2 linked regions of the Homo sapiens genome follow. The protein of the gene in region 2 interacts with the protein of the main gene of each other region in a pairwise test. Each region holds a gene or a part of one and is shown on either strand. Other genes may lie near its edges. The genes, in order: MTFR1L and ARMC1.

The links.
Region 1: the proteins of ARMC1 (region 2) and MTFR1L interact in binary tests that used the Homo sapiens proteins (3 or more experiments, as listed by UniProt).

Annotation. Positions count from the first base shown.
Region 1 is NC_000001.11:25,814,355-25,826,893, reverse strand, and holds the start of MTFR1L (mitochondrial fission regulator 1-like), read right to left. Parts: upstream 6,941-12,539; 5' UTR 6,865-6,940; exon of another isoform or gene 3,876-6,864; 5' UTR 3,790-3,875; coding exon 3,766-3,789; exon of another isoform or gene 3,288-3,765; intron 3,251-3,287; coding exon 3,146-3,250; intron 593-3,145; coding exon 483-592; intron 280-482; coding exon 68-279; intron 1-67. UniProt on the Homo sapiens protein: Mitochondrial protein required for adaptation of miochondrial dynamics to metabolic changes. Regulates mitochondrial morphology at steady state and mediates AMPK-dependent stress-induced mitochondrial fragmentation via the control of OPA1 levels.
Region 2 is NC_000008.11:65,631,178-65,638,830, forward strand, and holds the start of ARMC1 (armadillo repeat-containing protein 1), read right to left. Parts: upstream 3,001-7,653; 5' UTR 2,821-3,000; intron 2,749-2,820; exon of another isoform or gene 1,721-2,748; intron 1-1,720.

The sequences.
Region 1 (12,539 bases), on a different chromosome or scaffold from region 2:
ATCCTGCCCAAGAGCCAGGGGAAAGGAACAGCCTGTTACGTTCTGGCCCTGGCACAGGGGCTCCTACCTGCATCAGCTGCCACTATCTTTGCAATCTGGCTGCGCAAGTGGCTCAGCTCGTCCTGCAGCTCAGTAGTGCGGCTTAGGGCTGGCAGAGCTGGCTTCTTCAGGGCCAGAAGCCTCTCCTCGGACCCACGCAGGTTGGGAACAGAGGCATTGCGCTGCATGACAATCAGAGGGCTGGGTTTCCAGGTGTGCCTCAGGGGGCGCGTATCACTCCTGGACCAGGGAAAACCAAGTAGATCAGTTAGAGACAGCAGGCCACTGTGCTCCTAAGGTTCCTTCCCCCACTTCTGTGAGAGTAGTATAGTAAGGTTCTGCTCCTCTCTGAGCCCACAGTTCTCATTCCTCTCTCCTTGCTGCCTGCCACCTCTTCTGGGAAGTTCTCCATTCCTTAGCAGACCAGCTACTGCCTCAACTACCTGACCCGGGCATATGTCTCCTCTTCATCCGCAGCAATCCAGGCGATGTCAGCCAGGGTAGGGACTGGGGGCACATCTCTCAAACACAGGTCAGAGATGTTGGGCAGGGTCTATGGAGAAGCAAAAGTCATCAACATTTACAGATGCCATGATGAGCCAATCAGAAACTGCAGAATACACAGGAGGGGTACCTAATCCGGCACTGGGTGTCAGGAAGGCTTCCTAGAGGGGGCAGAAGAAGGTTCCTGGTCGAAAACATTGAACAGAGGCCAGATGACAGTCAGGCATGGTGGCTCACACCTGTAATCCCAGCATTTGGGAGGCCGAGGCAGGCAGAATGCTTGAGACCAAGAGTTTGAGATCAGCCTGGGCAACATGGCAAAACCCTGCCTCTACCAAAAAATACAAAAATTATCTGGGTATGGTGGTATACGCCTGTAGTCCCAGCTATTCAGGAGACTGAGGTGGGAAGATGGCTTGAACCTGGGAGGCAGAGGTTGCAGTGAGCTGAGATTGCACCACTGTACTCTAGCGTGGACAACAGAGCCACATTCAAAAACAAAAACAGGCAAGACACATGAGAGTCTATGGGATTACAAACAGTTCTGTGTCTTCAGTGGAAAAGGCCTGAGTCACCTTTTAGTAGAGATGGCAACTGTCTAAAACCACTGTGCCCTCTGGTGAAAATACAAGTACAAGGTCATCCACAACCTGTTACAGCAATAGGAAATTTTTCCTGACTAGCTTTTTATAATCCTGTATAGCTAATTGAGATCTACATTGTTACAGCAATGCTGTTTTAAACAAACCTGAAAATTTGAATATATTTAGATTTAAATAAAAATAAATGATTATACAAAAGGAACCATAATAGGATTTCTTAAAATAGCTCCTCAACCTAGAGATGTTGAGTAAAGTGAAAAATTAGGATTCAGTCATGTTGACTGTGATTACAACAAAGTAAAAAACATCCATCTAGAAAAAGAGGACTACACTAAGACATTAATAGTTATTGTATTATTACTATGTAATTATAGGTAATTTATTTTCCTTTTACTTTTCATAATTTTAATATTTTCATATGCTTAAATTTTCAAAATAAATTGGTAAGAGTCCCTTAAATAATATTTAAGGTAATTTAATAATAATAATAAATGCATATTTACACACAAGTAAGATTCAACTGTTTCTGCTACAAATTATTTGGTATGGTAGATGGATCCAGGATTGATCGCTCCTGCATTTAGATAGGAAACCTGGGACTCACAGGAGTTAAGTGATACTCCAAGGTCACACAGAGAAGAACTTCCAGTGACCCAGGAACTAGTGCTAAAATAGGGCATTTGGGGGAAGCCTCCATTTGTTTTCCTGATTAGCCCTGAATGCTCCTTTGCTCTTGGCAATTAAATGAGTAAACAAATATAAAGTACAGCACAGTGCCTGACACATAGTATGTGCTCAGTAAATGTTATCTAGTATTACCAATACTGCTCACATACATTCCTGCTCTGTGAGAGCCTGTGCCCTTGATTGTCTCTGCCCAGCATCTGGCCAAAGAACTGAAGAGGGTATAGCCAAGTGTGGGGACGGCCTCTATGCAGTGAGCCACACTCCCTAGCTGTCTCCCTTTTTTTTTTCTGATGCTTCTGAGGCAAGTTAGGACCAGTTCCTGCCCAGGATCTTTAGACAATTCTGGATAGCTGGCAATCTGAATACTGGGACAGCTTTTCCTGCCCCCTACCCCTGCGACACTTCCAACTCCATTCCTGACCCTAATACCAACCCTGACACCTCTTCTAATTCCAGATCCAGTTCCTACAGACTCTGCTTCTTAGCATCTTTTATACAGATTTGGCTCCTTCATTTCTGTTTCTACCTGGGCCCACATCCTTTCATGCACATATTTCTATCTCCTCTGTGTGGGTAGAAAGCACAAGTATTTCTTTTGTATCCCAGCTCTCCAAATGCACACATCTGAACCATATAGTTTGGGGCTGGTGCTTAACCATTTAGTTCCTAGAGGGAGGCAGCTGGGACTAATAAATGCTACTTAGCTTTCTACCACAGAAGGGGTCTCAAGAGACCTGGGCCAGGTAGGAATCTCTGCTGCTGAGTGGGTGCTAAAGGATCCCTAGACACAGAGGTAAGACCAAAGCACCCCAGTAAAGGATGCCCAGATTGGCCAAAAAGAGAAGGCTGAGGAATTATGGCCTCAGAGAAACACTAAAAATAGTGGAGCTGGGCATGGTGGCTTGTGCCTGTAATCCCAGCTACATAGGAGGCTGAGGCAGGAGGACTGCTTGAGCCCAGGAGTTTAAGACCTAGCCTGGGCAACATAGGGAGACCTCATCTCAAAAAATAATAAAATAAAAATACTGGCTACATGGTCAATTCTTAGGGCTGGTGAAGAAAAGCAGAGTTCAACTCAAAAATCACAATAGTCAGTGTCCCATGTGGGGGACCTGTCAGGTTCCTTGTGGTCACAGGTTTGTATGCACTCAGGAGGACACAGTGACCAGGATATCTTATAAGCATTTAACAAATATTTCATAACAGAATGAAAAGTGACCAGGAAACAACCTACTTGGGCAGTACCAAGGGGTTTGGGGCACAGAAGCAGCACTGTCTGAGCCTCTACTCTCCTGCCCTTCCAACATACTCACCTCAAAGGACGCCCGGGCACACGGCTTCAAGGGTAGGTTGGTCCCAATTCTTCTTACTACACTTCGAGCAGCCCCATGTGGCTTGTTTTGCCAGATTGGGATGGTCTGGAGCAAAGAGACGGAGACAGCTACAACCCCAGAGAATGAATCCAACTACTGTCCTTGTCCTCTCCTCTCTAGGTTTGTGGAGACTGAATTCCACAAACCTAGGGACAGGGCACTCTCTAGGGGCAAGTCAACTCTCAATTATAGTGAGGGCAGGTTCCCCAGTTGCCAGCCTACACCCTGGCCAGCCACCCAAGGGAATACCTGCTGCTGCTAAGGCAGTCAATGTTGGGAGGGTCAGGGAAGGGGAGAGGAAGTAGCTGAGTGTAGAGATTATCCAGGCTTTCCTTCCCGTCCTCTGTACAGAAAGGCAGACATACACTGACTCCTGAAGTGCCCCAGGATCATAGTTGGTTCTTCTTAGGGGGAGGGAGTGAAACGGTGGCCTTGCTCCAATTCCAGGCCTCTGGAGAAAGGAGTGCTCAACTGGAGAGTCTCAGAACCTTTTACAGTACTTCAGCAGGCCCAGCACCCAACCTTCCCCACCATACCCCTGCCCTGGGAATGCCCCTTACCACAGTGGCTTCCATTCCTGACATTTGAACCAGCTCCTGCACTTGAAGGACAAGGCAGCCACTGGGCAGCTCCGGGAGGCGGGAGGCGTGACTCCTTCATATCAGGCCATCTGGAGGAGCACCAGATTTCCCTCTTGTGAAACAACCCCCCACAGTGGGGATTTAATGGTCACCACACAAGCCCCAAAAAACCAGGCCCTGCAGAGCCATGACTTCACAGGGGAGAAAACCAGCCCAAGAGGCTGCCCTCACCCAACACTTAGCTCTAAGTCCAGACTCTTAAAGGTTCTGTTAAAGATCTGCGGCCAGGCGCAGTGGCTCACATCTGTAATCCCAGCACTTTGGGAGGCCGAGGTGGGCGGATCACGAGGTCAGGAGAGCGAGACCATCCTGGCTAACACAGTGAAGCCCTGTCTCTACTAAAAATACAAAAAATTAGCCAGGTGTGGTGGCGGGCACCTGTAGTACCAGCTACTTGGGAGGCTGAGGCAGGAGAATGGCGTGAACCCAGGAGGCAGAGCTTGCAGTGAGCCGAGATCACGCCACTGCACTCCAACCTGGGTGACAGAGCGAGACTCCGTCTCAAAAAAAAAAAAAAAAAAAAAAGATTTGCCTAGTGAGCTTGGCCAACCCAAGAGCCTTCCTGGGCTCTCAGGTTTCTTGAGGCAAAACTTCTAAAGATGCAAATAGAATCCTTGGTAGCTACAAAGCTCATCTAGCCAAATTATAAGTACTATCCAAGCCCAGGATTCATTCTTGAAGATGAGATGTAAAAGCACTGCTGGGCCCTTGCAAAGGGAGAGATCAGAGAAAATAGGAGAACGAACACCAGCTCATGCCAATCTCAGTCTCATGAGCTACAGAGAAAAAGAGCCAAAAAAGTTTATCCTGGCTCAGCCACCTTCTGGCTTTGTAGCTACAGGCAAGTTATTTAACTTTTCTGAATGTTGGTTTTTCCATCTGGAAAAAGGAGACAGGAAAAGCTGCCACTGGAGGCTACCTTAAGGGTCAATGAGTGAAATGGGGTTGAGTGCTTAATGAACTGTTAAAACATGACACAGATGGGTGAGGTGACATCTGACTGCTCTTCACAGCAGTCCTTGCATGGTGAGCAGATGCAATCAGTGTGCTCGTTCATTCACTTGTTCATCAAACACCAACAGTACCCACTTGTGCCAGGCCTTGTGCTGGGCACCGTAGGGGCTATGGAAGGAGTAAGACACAGTCATGCTCTCAAGGAACTCGCTGTCCAGCAGAGTGATAGGACATGAATACATACTTCTAGCAAAGGCTGAGTAGCATTAGGCAGGTGGCCAGATGAGGTCAGAGCTCTGGCCCTAGTGCCCTGTAGTAAGTTGCGAGGGAGTAGGAAATGAAGACAAAACAGCAAGAGCACAGGTCCAGCACAAGAAGGTGAAGGACATGGAAAGAGGAGCAGAGCATGATAAAGCTACAAAAGTAGGGGGCAAGTCATGAGGTCCGGGTCACTGGGGAGCCCTGGACAGGCTCTGAATGGGAGATAGACTAGACTGACAAAGCAGCTCTTTCTGGAGACCTCCTGTGGAGGGTCCCCTCTTCTACCCTTGGGAGACGAGGTGTCATTCACTTCACGATACACATGGGGAAAGGAAGTTGGACAGGGGAAGGCACTTGTCTAAGGTCACTCAGTGGTCATGCCAGTGCAAAGCACCCAAAGCCTGGTCCAGGTCCTGCCACCTCCTGCGTGGGCTCCATCTTCTCGGCTCAGTTCAAGCCTTTATTATCAGAGTCCCTCTGTGTGCCAGGCTCTGTGCTGAATGTCCGTGTCGGCCACAAATTGCACTAACGGTGCTTACTGCCACTTCCTCTCCGACCTTACCTCCAAAGACCCAGCCGGGCCTAACCCTCACACACAGCCAGAGGAATCCTTCCCAAACACAGTTAATCACATCGCTCATCCGTTTAAAACTGGCTTACTAGAGCCAACACAGGATAAAATCCACAATCAGTCCCAAACCCATCTTTCTCTGCCGTCTCTAGACCACATTCACTGAGCACCAAGGCCTGCACGCTTCGCAGCCAGCCCTCCTGCTCTCCCCCTTGCCCTCCAGCCACACTGGCCCTCAACCCCCAACACTGGGCCCACCTCTGAGCCCTGCATCAAACACCAGCACCCCCTTCGCCGAGCTCATTCTTCATCATTCCTCAGAGCTCAGCTTAAGCATCACCTTCCTTCCCTGCGACAGGGTCAGGTCCTTTCCTGTGCGCTCCGCAGCACCCTGCCTGTCCCTCGGAGTCCTCGCGAGAGGAACTAGATAACTGTGATCCCCGCGCACAGCACGGTGTCTGCCTAGGACACAGTGAGCGCTTCAACGCGCTGAACTAAACGAATGAAGGGGAACACCAACTCAGCTGTCACCCCCGCCCCCAAGTGTCACTGGCTAGAAGATCTTCCCCCGGTTCGCCGGCAGCACCGGTGGGTCTTGTCACCTCTGCGCCCCGCAGCCCTCCGGAGGCTGCAGTTGCTGTCTGCTGACAGGCGTCCCCTCAGGAGAACGGGAGCTCCTCCAGCGCAGGGCCCTGCTCAGCACCCCTGGTCCCGGGGGCCCCCACGGAGGCCGCCGCGCTCAGTGAAACTTTGCCGCGCGCAGCAGTGGCCGGAGACCCGCGCGGACCCTCTCCCCGCGGGGACCCGCCAGGGCGAGTCGCCCCTCCCCCGCGGCAGACGACCCGACCTGGGCCAAGGTCGGCCAAGTGCTCGCCGCCTGCCCAGCGGCCCTTGGACCCACAGGACCCGGACCCGAGTGCGCGGAAGCCTCCGAGCCGCGGCCAGGTCTCAGAATGCGCGGCGGGGCAGCCCGGCCCGTCAAGCAGCGAAGCCGAAACTAGAAGCCTGAGGTCTGGCTTGGTCACTGTTTGCTGGGGAACTCCGACGAGCAACTACCCTTCGGGGACTCAGTTTCCCCCGGGCCAAGTGAGACGGACAGCTGCGGCTCCCGCGAGAACTCGCGCGGGAACAGGAGCTGCGGGCTCCGCACAGCGCCCGGCACGTAGACCCAGTCTACTAACGGGCTGGAAGGTCGCGCTCCCGCCTCCGCGCCTCCCTAGAACCTTTCTCACCTCAAGCTCGGGCTCCCGGACTCTCTCACCTCACGGCCCCTCCTTCCACCTTGGGCCGCCCAGCCTCAACCGCCCTCACTTCCGCTGACCCGCCCCCCGGAAGCGATCCTCCGCAGCTGCGCACCGAGGCGCACCTCCGCGCACCCTCAGGAGGCGGGTCCAGCTCGGTGGCGAGGGGAGCGCGGCCCCCGAGTGGGCGAGGCGCTGGCGGCTGTAGGCTCCGATACCGCGGAGCACACTCCCCTCCATCGAGACCGTGCCCCCGCGGGGTCTGTGTCCCCGGGAGGAGTTGGCTGCGTTTGGAGATCCCTCGGCCTGGTATTCGTCGCGTCTCCCTGCTTGTTGCTCTCCACGTTTAGCCCCATCCGACTTCTGGAAGCCCAGGGGTGTGTCGCTCGACCCCTAAAATATGCTCCTACCCCTAGGGCAAACTTCAGAATCCTCACCCTGGCCCCCTTCCCAGTTCTTGGTTCCCAGGCAGGTCCCTTTGCAAAGCCTCTCTCCAGCAAGAATGCGCAGAATGGGCCTCTTTCTCCTCTTGACTCCTGCCCTCCAGCACTTTGCAGCTTTCTTCTATTTTAGCCTCTCTCTCTCTCTCTCACACACACACACACACACACACACACACACACACACACACACGGTATATTCAATGAGTTTGCTTATTAGATGGGTACTTGATGTACAAGACTCCAGAGGCTCTGTGGGAAGAGCCACATTCCTTCCAGGCTCACTAACCCACTCCCTCTTTGTGCTCCAGCCCTCACTGTCTTGGTCTGTGGCATGCAGTTCCTGGGTCACATTTCCTTCTCTGCCTTCAGCACAGCCTCGGGCTGTGCCTGGCTCCCAGGCTGGAGTTCCTTGGTTCCAAAGCCTGCAGTCCCCTCTGCCAGAGACAGAGCTGGTTTCATGGGTGAACAGCCCATGCAGTCACAACGGGCCGCATGCTCAGAATCCTGTACTTGGTTTAGTACTTTGCTGTTGCCGTCTTGAAATGATTTTCTAATAGGGGTTCTTGTGTTTTCATTTTGCACGGGGCTGTGCAAATTATGTGACTGGTCCTGGCTAGAGACCTCAGAGGTCGTCCACCCTGATCTCCACCATATCTCAAACGCTGAAGATTGACTTCCAGGTCTGGCCCTCTTCCCAGGATGGCACATTGTGTTTTAATCATTACCTTTCCCTCCTGTGCGATGGCGGATCATGCAAGTCCACGCTGGCTGTCTGTCCTGGGTGTAGATGCTGATTTGGTGTCCCACTCAGATCCCCTTGCAGGAAGAACGGAGCTCCCTACCTGGGAATTTCCTTCACCTCCCAAGCCAATGACTGATAAAAGGTCCAAAAGGCCAGTTCAGCTCTGCAGTGTGGTTTATGCCCCACAGCTCTTCCACTGTGGGTCAGGCCAAGGCTGGGCTGAGACTGTTCCTGCTCAGCATTTTTCCTTTCCCTCTTCTGCTTCCTTCCTTCTTTTACTGGTTTTTCTGGAAGTACACTCCCCCCCAGCCCCACCAAACAAACAAAACAAACAAACAAAAAAACACTTCATGCCTGTCTCAGGCTCTGCTTTTAAGACAATGATTTTAACTCCCAGATCTCTCTCAACAGAGAGCACCAGATTCTCAAAACAGTAAGTCCTACCACTTGTTCTATCGTAAAACTTATTTTGGGCAAGTCACTCAAGCCTTCGATAGGTAAGATAGTACCTGAAAGCATTCCAGCTCAACTCTGCCCCAAGAGGGAGCCACCCCATGGAAGGACGGAGCTGAGCAACATGCCACTCAAAGGAAAAGCACTTAGAACCACTCTAGTTAGTCTTCTCTAATTTTATTACAGGGCATGTTGGGGACAGGGGAGGGAAGTGTTAGAGGAGTGACAGGGCAGCCCGGGGCCCTCTCCCACCCTGAGCCTCGAGGCCTGGTGGGGGACATGAACTGCAGAGGCATCAGATAAGGCCTCAGAAAGCCCAGGCCATCATTTTCCATGGGACCAGGCTGGCTCAATGTGGAACTGGCCCTCCCAGAGCAGCAGGAGAAGGGCTCGCATGGGCTGCCCCCGTCACCTGTGCCTGACAGGATGGGGGGGGAGGCAGAGAGAGAGCATCAGACGCCCTCCCTCCCCATAAGGGGCATGGGGGATGGGGACACTTCCTCCCAGGACACAGGGAGCCTGGCTGAGCTGGCTGGCTCATGCCCCATCTGGTCTGGAGGTCAGAGGGGAGTGAGACACTCTGGTTTGAAAGGCCTTCCTTTCCACTTTGGGGAAAACAGGCAGGGAGAGAGGTGAGGGTGCCATGCCAAAAAACACCCCCAAATCCAGATGCAGACTTTGGAGCCACATGTGGGTTTGAATCTCAACTCTACCTGAGTGACCCTGGGCAAGTCACTTCACTTCCCTGAGACTCAAGTTTCATCAAGATGGGAACAATGAGCATCTGCCTCACAGGCTTGTCGTGAGGATTAAGTGAGAAGGTGCGTGTAATATTAGCGATGACTGGATGATACAAAATTAAGAACAAGGCTGGGCACGATTGCTCACGCCTGTAATCCCAGCACTTTGGGAGGCTGAGGCAGGTGGATCACCTGAGGTCAGAAGTTCCAGATCAGCCTGACCAATATGGTGAAACCCCATCTCTACTAAAAATACAAAAATTAGCCAGCCATGGTGGCATGCACCTGTAATCCCAGCTACTCGGGAGGCTGAGGCAAGAGAATTGCTTGAACCTGGGAGGTGGAGGTTGCAGTGAGCCAAGATCGAGCCATAGCACTCCAGCCTGGGTGACAGAGCAAGACTCCGTCTCAAAACAAAACAAAACAAAATTGAGAACAAGACTGGCTGGGGAAGGCTCAGTGGACACGCCCAAGGCAAGTGGGGTAACTCGGCACATAAAAGGCCCAGGAGTGGCTGCGGAGATGTCTGCCTTCCTTCTTCCTCTGCCAGGCTGAGTGAGCCCCGGGTGGGGTGAGGGGGTGGGGAGAGAACTGGGGGCTGGGGAGGGGGCAGCCTGACTTCAAGACCTTAATGAAAGAGAGTACAGGCATGCCTGTGGGCCTTTGTGGAGGATGGGACAGTGCTGGGGATCATGGATCCTCTGAGGACTGTTTTTAAAAAGCTGAAGAGGAGAAGGAAGAGAGGACTACTTCTTCCCATAGGTGCAGCTGCAAAGACATCAAGCTGGACCCATCGAGGATTTCGGATTCAGCCATCATGGGGCTGCTGCCGGGGAAGCCACTGCCCCTCCTTTCTCCTCAGCACTGGGGTTATAAAAAAATACCTACAAACCATGAGAAAGTTTGTGTAAAAACACTTTTCTGCACATATAAAAAGAGAGACTGGCCGTGGTCAGTGGCTCAGGACGTGGACCAAAGTCCCAAGAGTGGCCAAGGGGAGTCCGTGGTGCCCCAGAGGTAGAAGAGCTAGCCTGGGGCACCCCTGGTTGCCGGGACAGTGCCGGCTCTGGAGAAGGCTGTGGTGTTTGGCTGGGTTGTGCTTCTGTGGATGCAAGGTCTGAGGGGCAAGAGGGGCGGCAGGAGCGCTGGCTCCCGCAGTCCTGCAGAGACCCTGTGCTAAGGTAGGCGGTGGGAGTGCCTTGGCCCTGGGCCTCGGGAACCCCCTTAGTGAACCCCATTGCTAAAGGCAGAAACCCCTTCACAGTAAACTTCCCCAGATAGCTGGTCAGTGGCGTGGTCAGGGAAGCTGCAGGGGGTCCCGTCTGATTTCCACTCTGATGGAGGGTTCTGCCCAGAGGCTCCAGAAGACTGGCTCCTGTTGAGACTGACCCCAGCTGGGGACATCAGGCACAGGAGGGCAGTCCGGGGTATGGCCAGGAACGAAGGCTCTAGATAAACAGGGGAGCCGCCTTGGCAGCCTGGCCCCTCCTGGCTGGGGCTTCTTGATGTTTCCTGTGGGAAGGGCTGAAAGCAAGGAGAGGGTGGTGGCCCCGTCTTCCTAGCCTGCTCCTCCCTCCATTCTTCACCCCACAAGGGCCTAGACTGTGCGGCTGGCTAGGAAAGGTCCAGGGAGTTCACCCAGGCCCTGATCTGGGGGGGCCAAGCAGCTTCCAGAGCCAAATGGGTAGGGAGAGCCGAGTGACAGTCAGAGCTAGAGGTTCCTCTGCCCAGTCAGCCCAGGCATCCCTTGTCTACCCGCCACCATGGAGCCAAGGCTGTGGTGGCCACCCTCAGTGGATCTTGTACCCTCCAAGGCAGCCTAGGAGTGGGGTGGGAGTGGGCGGCATCTGCAGTCTGAAATGGGCTGAGGACCACTCTGGCTCTGAGGCGTGGGGGCCTGTGCATCAGATCCCGTCCAGGCACTCTAGGGCTGGAGGAGGGGCAGGCCACGCCGGAGTCCCTCCTTCAGGAACTGCATGTAGGTGGCCGTGGACGGGTCTTCAAAGGTGGATGAGAAGCTGAAGAGATTGCTCTCGATTTCCTCGGGCTTCACGGAGGTGATGTCCAAGAAGTAGTTGGCATTGATGTGATGGACCTGGGAGAAGGGCCGGGTGAGGCAAGTGGGGCGGAGGGGGGCCCCCAGGCTCCCTGTGCCCTCTCTTCTATGGGGAGAAGCAGGGATGCTATCAGGCCTTGACTGTCCTTGTCTGAGGTGGATGGTGGGCAGGCAGTGCTGCCGTAAGCCCTCGCCAGCACCCGACACCATCTCATCACCCTGTGTCTGACGAGGGGGCTCCTCCCTGCCTTGCCTACCAAGTGAAAACCCAACACCTTCCAACATCACCTCTTCTACTAGCCCTCTGCCCCCGCCCCCCGAAATGACCCCTCTCCTCTGTTCCTGTGACCCCGGACTCCCATCCTGAACTCCGTGCTCCCTTCTCTCACTGCAGCCTCACATTCAATGGGCCTCTCCTTTGGCCTCTCGCTCCAGAGACTGAGCTCCTTCAGCACGGGGCTGTGTCTTTATCTTTGTGCCTGGCACACAGTAGGTGCCCAGTAGATGAACAAATGAATGAATCAGCATTCAATCAACATTCATATGAATGGGAGGCCTGGTTCTCCCAACCAGGCCCAGCCTCATCCAGTTCCCCGACACCATCTCATCACCCTTGCGCCTGGGACAGCAGATGCCTTCCGCCTGGTGCCCTTTCCTTTACACCAAACCCTCACTGGACACCTCTCCCGTGACAGCCCCTGCTCCTGAACTGCTCCCATCCTAAGATCCTGAGGAAGCCGGCCCCCTCCTACAGCCCTGGGTCCCACACTAACCATGCCTTGGGACTTAAAGGATGAGGGGTCGCTTTGATCAGAAGAGCTGGAGATCTGAGGCTCAAGGGCAGGCCTCGGTTCAAAGCCAGCTGCACTTAATTGACTGCAACATTTGTCCAGTCTCTCAACTTTCTGGGCCTCCTTGTTTATAAAATGGGTATTCATGACCATCCATCTCCCAAAGCTGCTGTGAGGCCCCAGTGAGAAGACTTGCTGAGTGCTAGGTAAGGGGCCCTTAGGGAGAGGTGGGGTCTTGAATCTTGGCTCAGGGCCCTCTCCTGGTCTCTGTCACAAGGCCTGGCTCCTCCCTCCCCTTCCATCCCAGGACTGGCCGCCATGGTCCAAGGTGAGCCTTCCCTTCCAGGCTGTGTTTCTAGGGAGGCGCTGACTCTGCCTCAGGACTATGCTCACTGCTGCGCAGCCCCCGATGACCAACACCTGCATCACGATTCCTGTTTC
Region 2 (7,653 bases):
ACCTTGATATTCTTGATGATAACAAGTTACTCTGACATCCATTTCTAACTACCACATTGCCTGAATTTTTGGGGGGGAACAGGGTCTCACTCTGTCACCCAGGCTGGAGTGGCGTGGTACGATTTCGGCTTATCACAACCTCTGCCTCTCAGGTTCAAGCAATTCTCCTGCCTCAACCTCCCAAGTAGCTGGGACTACAGGTGCCTGCCACCATGCCCGGCTAATTTTTTATTTTTAGTAGAGACGGGGTTTCGCCGTGTTGGCCAGGCTGGTCTTGAACTCCTGACCTCAGGTGACCCACCCTCCTCGGCCTCCCAAAGTGCTGGGATTACAGGCGTGAGCCACCACGCCTGGCCATTGCTTGAATTCTGTTAAATGATCAATATTTCTGTGGATTGCAGCGTTCACAAAGCAGATTTTATGAGATAGCAATAGAACAGTTAGGAAACTGAAAACAGATAAACGAAAGTTACAACTCTAACCCCAATCATGTATTAGATACATATTATGTTTCTGTGTTAATTTCATCAACTTCACACACTCAAGCTGTTTGATAAAAATGTCCGCCTTTGCTGGGTGCAGTAACTCAGGAGGCTGAGGCAGGAGACTGGTTGAGGCCAGAGTTCAAGTCTACAGTGTGCTATGATCTTGCCTGTGAACAGCCACTTTACTACAGCATGGACAACATAGCAAGACCCTGTCTCTTAAAAAAAAAAAAAAAAAGTCTATCTTCATAGGTTGGAAAAAATGATTTTAAATGAATATTTCAGGATTCAGTCTATCCTACCCACTATATGCCCAATTTGGCAAAGTGCAAAATAATTTTTATTTTATTTTTAAGATAGGGTCTCGCTCTGTTGCCCAGGCTGGATGGCAGTGGCAGAGCCACTAAAACTTTATGCTGCTGTATAAATGCATCTCTTTTAAACATGGCTATGAACATATGAATAAAATGCTAAGCTCTAAAACTCTGTAAGATGGCCAGGTACCATGGCTCAGGCCGGTAATCCAAGCACTTTGGGAGGCCCAGGGGGGTGGATCTCTTGAGCCTAGAAGTTCAAGACCAGCCTGGGCAACATGGCAAAACCCCATCTCTACTAAAAATACAAAAGCTGAGGTGGGAGGATCACCTGAGCCTGGGAGCTCGACAGAGTGACAGCTCATCTCAAAATAATAATAATAATAATAAAATTTGGGAGGCCGAGGCGAGCGGATTACGAGGTCAGGTGATTGAGACCATCCTGGCTCACACAGTAAAACCCCGTCTCTACTAAAAATACAAAATATTAGCCAGGCGTGGTGGGGGGCACCTGTAGTCCCAGCTACTCGGGAGGCTGGGTCAGGAGAATGGCGTGAAACCGGGAGGCGGAACTTGCAGTGAGCCGAGATTGTGCCACTGCACTCCAGCCTGGGCAACAGAGCGAGATACCGTCTCAAAATAATAATAATAGTAATAATAAAATAAAACTCTACAAGACGCCGGGCACAGTGGCTCACGCCTGTAATCCCAGCACTTCGGGAGGCCAAGGCCTCTGGTACTCCAGGGGTTGAGGCAGGAGAATCGCTTGAACCCGGGAGGCGGAGGTTGCAGTGAGCCGGGATCGCATCACTGAACTCCAGCCTGAGCGACAGAGCGATACTCCGTCTCAAAAAAAAAAATAAAAAATAAAGACCATAGCCTCACTAACAAATGATGAAAATGTGAAAAGACTTTTTATACCTTTACTTTCTCTTGTTTAGTTCAACTTGGACAAACAAATCATTCTATGACAAAGAATACTTCTCATCGTTTAATGAGCACTCTGGTCAGTTAAAGGTTCCTGTTAAAAAGCAAATGCTGATTCAGTAGGTGGGAGAGTCTGAGATTCCGCATTTCCAACAAGCTTCCAGGTGAGGCCTATGCTACTTGTCACACTCTGAGAAGCAAGCAGTTAGAAGATACATGTGAGACACCTGTAATTAGGCAGATGCCTGCAAGATTTTTCCTTCTCGTACAGTCAAGATTCACCATTCAATTCAAAGATTTAATTCTCACATGCCAAGAGATGCAGAGGGAATACGTTTAACCTAAATCCTTATTCAGTTAGGTGGGCTTTGATAAAAATAACATAAGCATTGATATTAAATCTGACTTTCCCCTTACTCGAAGAGTTAACTGTAACTTTGAGAAGTTAAGTTCTTAGAGCCTCAGTTATCTCACATAACAATCCTCAGCGGTTATCAGATTAAAGTAAGAACGCGAAATGGTAAAATCAAACACCAGCAATTACCAAACCAGAATACTACTTGCTCATGTGGGGACATCTGTCCTGCCAGGTGTTGGAGGTACCTTCTGCACTGCCCTGACACTTCAGTGCACTAAGTATCACGAAAGGAGTTGCTAACTGCACGAATACCTACCCCCGCCCTCCCAAAACACAGTCTTAAATATAAAAATGGGAACACTGGTCTCTCTTGAATTAAGCCTAACACAACTATGTCTTTCCGCTCTTAGGAGACACGCAGGTGCACAAAACTAACAGAAAGTTACCAAAGAATAACCTGGAGAGATGAAAAGATGAGATGACACCCATTAATAATACTGGGGTTAGTAAAAGTCAGATGTGAGGGGGGACAAAGAAGAAATGAGCAAAGCTAACAGATTCACGGGACACGTGGGGGTAGAGCGTGCTAAAGCGCCTCACTGGGACCCACTACTGGATCTGACAAGAGGCAGGCGGGGCGCCCCTCCCAGGCGGATTCGCTGCCTCGGTACAGGGGCCGCTTCCCGCGGCCTTCCCGGCTCCACTGCTTTGTCTGCCGCCCGTGGACCCCACATACCGCTCCAGAGCTTTAGGAGTCCAGAGCCTGCCACACCATCAGGGCCACACCTACGGATGAGGTAGAGACCCAGGCGGCGCGGAGCGAGCCCTTCGGTTCGCAGCCCCGGCCGCGGCGATCGCAAGCAACCGGACTAACTCAGGGAGCCAAAGAGCGAAGGCGCTGGCGGGCAAAGGCTCTGCAGACTCTTCCCAGGTGACCTGACGCCTCTGTCGCTTATGCCCTCCTATTGGCTGATAATGAGTCCAACGTGAGGATAAAGTATCCAATCAGTGAAGGTCTTTTTAGAGTGAAGCGCTCATAGGTGGTTTAGGGAAATACACTAAGAGTCAAGGGACTGATCCAATGAGGACCCAGGAACACTATATTGGCCCTAACTACTCGCCGTCCACCAAGCCCTAACCGAAGAAATTTGATTCCGGCTGGGAAACTGTCACACCTTCACAACCTCAATACCCAGCTTTGTGGGGCCAGCAGGACTTCTCCGGTCCTGCATTCGGTAATTCAAATTGAGTATTTCTTTAGCAACTCTTGCAATTCTAATAAAGGCAATACCTAATATTTTATTCGCTTCTGTGAGTCTTAATTCATAAATTTTTTTTGTTTTGTGTTTTACTGTGGACGTTAGCACTACATTAGGCGTTCCTTGGATTTTCGTTTATTTCTTCTTGGTGTCCACTGTCTCCCTAGCAGCTTGAAAGACGCAAAGTACAGTTTTCGTTTAAGTAGCAATTTATTTTGGGGAAGAGGTTTTTTTTTTTTTCTTGTAAGGAATTTATTATCACAATCTTCTCAAATTCATATTTTAAAATATCTTCTATGTAGTTTATCAAAGTAAGGATTTATATACTTGTTTTATGGATGGCAATCACTTGAAGTTTTTGTTTAGGCATAGATTTTATTTTTTTTTTAATTTCTTTAAATACAAACCTACTCTTAACCCGCAGGCAGATCTTTGAGAATAATGTATCCATTGCAGTCAATAACCCCAATAAACAGATTCTGGATTCTCTCCATAACAGTTTGATTCGGCCACGTAGCTCATGTATTAAAGTCAGAAGGAATATGAGAGGCCTCTAATAGGAAAAGAGTGTGGATAACAATAAATATCCCAGATTGTATTCAATGCTAATATCTCCTATACTTCTTGAATTTAAAAACCAAGCAGCTACTTCTTGAATTTCTTTCCGTTCCCTTGTTCTCGGTTATCCTCTTGCTTCCAATGAACTCAAAATAGGAGCAAAATAAGCTAAGTAGAAAACAAATAGGCCGGGTGCGGTGGCTCACGCGTGTAATCCCAGCACTTTGGGAGGCCGAGGTGGGCGGATCACTTGAGGTCAGGATTTCGACACCAGCTTGGCCAACATGGTGAAACTCTGTCTCTACTAAAAACCAACCAACAAACAAACAAAACTAACCAGGCGTCGTTGCGGGCGCCTGTAATCCCAGCTACTTGGGAGGCTGAGGCAGGAGAATCGATTGAACCTGGGAGGCTGAGATTGCAGTTAGCCGAGATCACGCCACTGCACTCCAGCGTGGGCAACAGAGCGAGACGGTCTAAAAAAAAAAAAAAAAAAAGTCCAAAGGGCACAGCCAGGTTAAACATAACCCATTTGGTTGAGTTACTTTCTTCAGTATAGTTATTAAAAACAACTAAAAAAAAATCCCAGGAAATTAAACTTGCTATTTTTGTTAACGTTAATATATTAGGAAGGCAGGTACGGGGGCTCACGCCTGTAATCCCAGCACTTTGGGAGGCCGAGGTGGGTGGATCACCTGAGTTCAGGAGTTCGAGACTAGCCTGGCCAACATGGTGAAACCCCGTCTCTACTTTTTTTTTTTTTTTTTTTTTGAGACAGAATTTCTATCTTCCTGCCCAGGCTGGAGTACAATGGCGCAATCTCGGCTCACCGCAACCTCCGCCTCCCTAATTACAGGCATGCGCCACCACGCCCGGCTAATTTTTGTATTTTTAGTAGAGACGGAGTTTCTCCATGTTGGTCAGGCTGGCCTCTATCTCCTGACCTCAGGTGATCCGCCCGCCTCGGCCTCCCAAAGTGCTGGGGTTACAGGCGTGAGCCACCGCGCCCGGTCAGCCGTCCCTACTAAAAATACAAAAAATTAGCCTGGCGTGGTGGCGGGCGCCTGTAGTCCCAGCTACTCCGGAGGCTGAGGCAGGGGAATTGCTTGAACCCATGAGGCGGAGGTTCTAAGCCGAGGTCGTGCCACTGCACTCCAGTCTGGGAGACAGAGCGAGTCTCCGTCTCAAAATAAATAAATAAATAAATACTAAATATAATCATGCTTCTGCCATTATTGAGAAAAGTAATTCTTCCTGCACACTGCCATTACAGAATAGATGACTGCTATTAAGAAGCAGGGGGTGTGTTCACAAAAAAATAATTACCAGTTTCCTAAGCACCTATGGATTATAAGCCTTAGGGAGGTATTTAAAGATTTTAATAATCTGTATTCCCATATTAAAATGTCTAAACTTGGCCGGGCGTGGTGGCTCAAGCCTGTAATCCCAACACTTTGGGAGGCCGAGGCGGGCGGATCACAAGATCAGGAGATGGAGACCATCCTGGCTAACACGGTGAAACCCCGTCTCTACTAAAAATACAAAAAAAAAAAAAAATTAGCCGGTCGTGGTAGCAGGCGCCTGTAGTCCCAGCTGGAGGCTGAGGCAGGAGAATGGCGTGAACCCGGGAGGCGGAGCTTGCAGTGAACCGAGATCGCACCACTGCACTCCAGCCTGGGCGACAGAGCGAGACTCCGTCTCAAAAAAATAAAAAATGTCTAAGCTTGACACCAGTGAAGTTATACTACCTCCCATTGTGAGTCATTGCTTGTTCTTAGCCTCAGGTATCTTCCCACGGGACACTGGAATGTCGTTTCTCAGTAGCTGTGTTGCTTAAGACATGATTCAGATACTGGCAGTTTCATTCATTTAATTATTTAACAACCGGTTTTTGAACGCATACAATGTGCCATAGACAATCTTGACTATGGATTCAAAGGTAAGGAAAATCACAATCCCTGCCCTCAAGCAGCTCATGGTCTAAAGAGCTCAAGAAACAGTGGATTTCAAAACTTTTTGATCAGGCAACACTTTCAGCTTTATATATATGTATTCGAGTACATAGCTCTGACATATTTATATGTATTTATTCCTAAATTCTATACATGTACTATCAAATTAATATGTAGTTTTGAAAATGTCAAAGTAGAAATTTTTAAAGAAAGAGAAATATTTATAAATTGAAGCTCTCACTACCCATCCAGATGAAAATAAAATTGGATCCATATATTACATCATTTACCAAAAAAATAAATTCCAGGTGTATTAAAAACTCAAACCTTGAAGACTACATATATGACCTAGAAGCAGAGGGAAACCTTGAACAAAACTGGAAACCCAAAAGTTAAACAAGAAAAAAAATGGATACATTGGACTTGTTTTAAAAAGCAGCTGGCCAGGCGTGGCGGCTCACACCTGTAATTCCAGCACTTTGGGAGGCCGAGGTGGGTGGATCACTTGAGGTCAGGAGTTCCAGACAAGCCTGGCCGACAATGGCCAAACCCCGTCTCTGCTAAAAATACAAAAATTAGCCAGGCATGGTGGCACACGCCTGCAGTCCCAGCTACTTGGGAGGCTGAGGCAGGAGAATCACTTGAACCCGGGAGGCAGAGGTTGCAGTGAGCAGAGATCACACCATCGCACTCCAGCCTGGGTAGCAGAGCGAGACTCTGTCTCAAAAAAAGAAAAACAGCTCTATAGGTCAGGGTCAATCCCAAGAGCTGGTTTATAGAAAAGAATACCACAATCTCTGGAAAGTGGTGATCCTTTAACCTATTTGGATATAGATTTTTTTTTTTCTGGTCACTATGCACTGATCTAAGAAGAATTAAACTGTTTCAAGACTCAGAACAACCAAATATGCCCCAAAGTCTATGACTGAAACAAAATAGCTCAACAATTTTTCATTGGGCACCATGGTAAAAACATTCATTCAAATTGAGATTTAGATAATAAATGCAGATTAAAATGTTATCTTTTCCCAACAATATGTGCTTTTTTTTTTTCTTCTTTGAGATGGAGTCTTGCTCTGTCGCCCAGGCTGGAGTGCACTGGAGTGCAGTGGTGTGATCACGGCTTACTGCAACCTCTGCATTCTGGATTCAAGTGATTCTACTGCCTCAGCCTCCCGAGTAGCTGGGATTACGGCATGCACCACCACACCTGGCTACTTTTTACATTTTCAATAGGAATGGGGTTTCACCATATTGGCCAAGCTGGTCTCAAACTCCTGACCTCAGGTGATCTGCCCGCCTCGGCCTCCCAAAGTGCTGGGATTTTACAGGCGTGAGCCACCTCGCCCAGCCCAATATGTGCTTTTATTAGTAATTAAAGGAGCTTTGAAGTCAATGGGCACTGCATGCATCACTGACTCTTGCCTCAGGTGAGATGAAGTTGGCCCACTAACTGGTCTTGACCAGCTCTCCTGTAGCCCAGCCTCTCCCAGACACATCTAGCCTCACTGTGTCTCAAAGCACCCTTCAGAAGGGCACTTCACCGTCCTACCCAATAATCTTTTACCATCCATTCCTATATTCTAATGCAGAACCTCCTGAAGCTTATTTCAGTGTGTTACATTTTCTCCAGGGGGCAATTAGAGCTGGGGAAAGAAAAAACAGAACTAGAGGAAAAGGGTCTCAACTTCCAGGAAAGATCCTTTGTAAGCTTTGCAGATTATTCAACCTGTCTCAACAAATGGGGCTGTCATTAAGCCTTATATGAGAAACAGGCTGACATAGACATTGGTCTGTTCC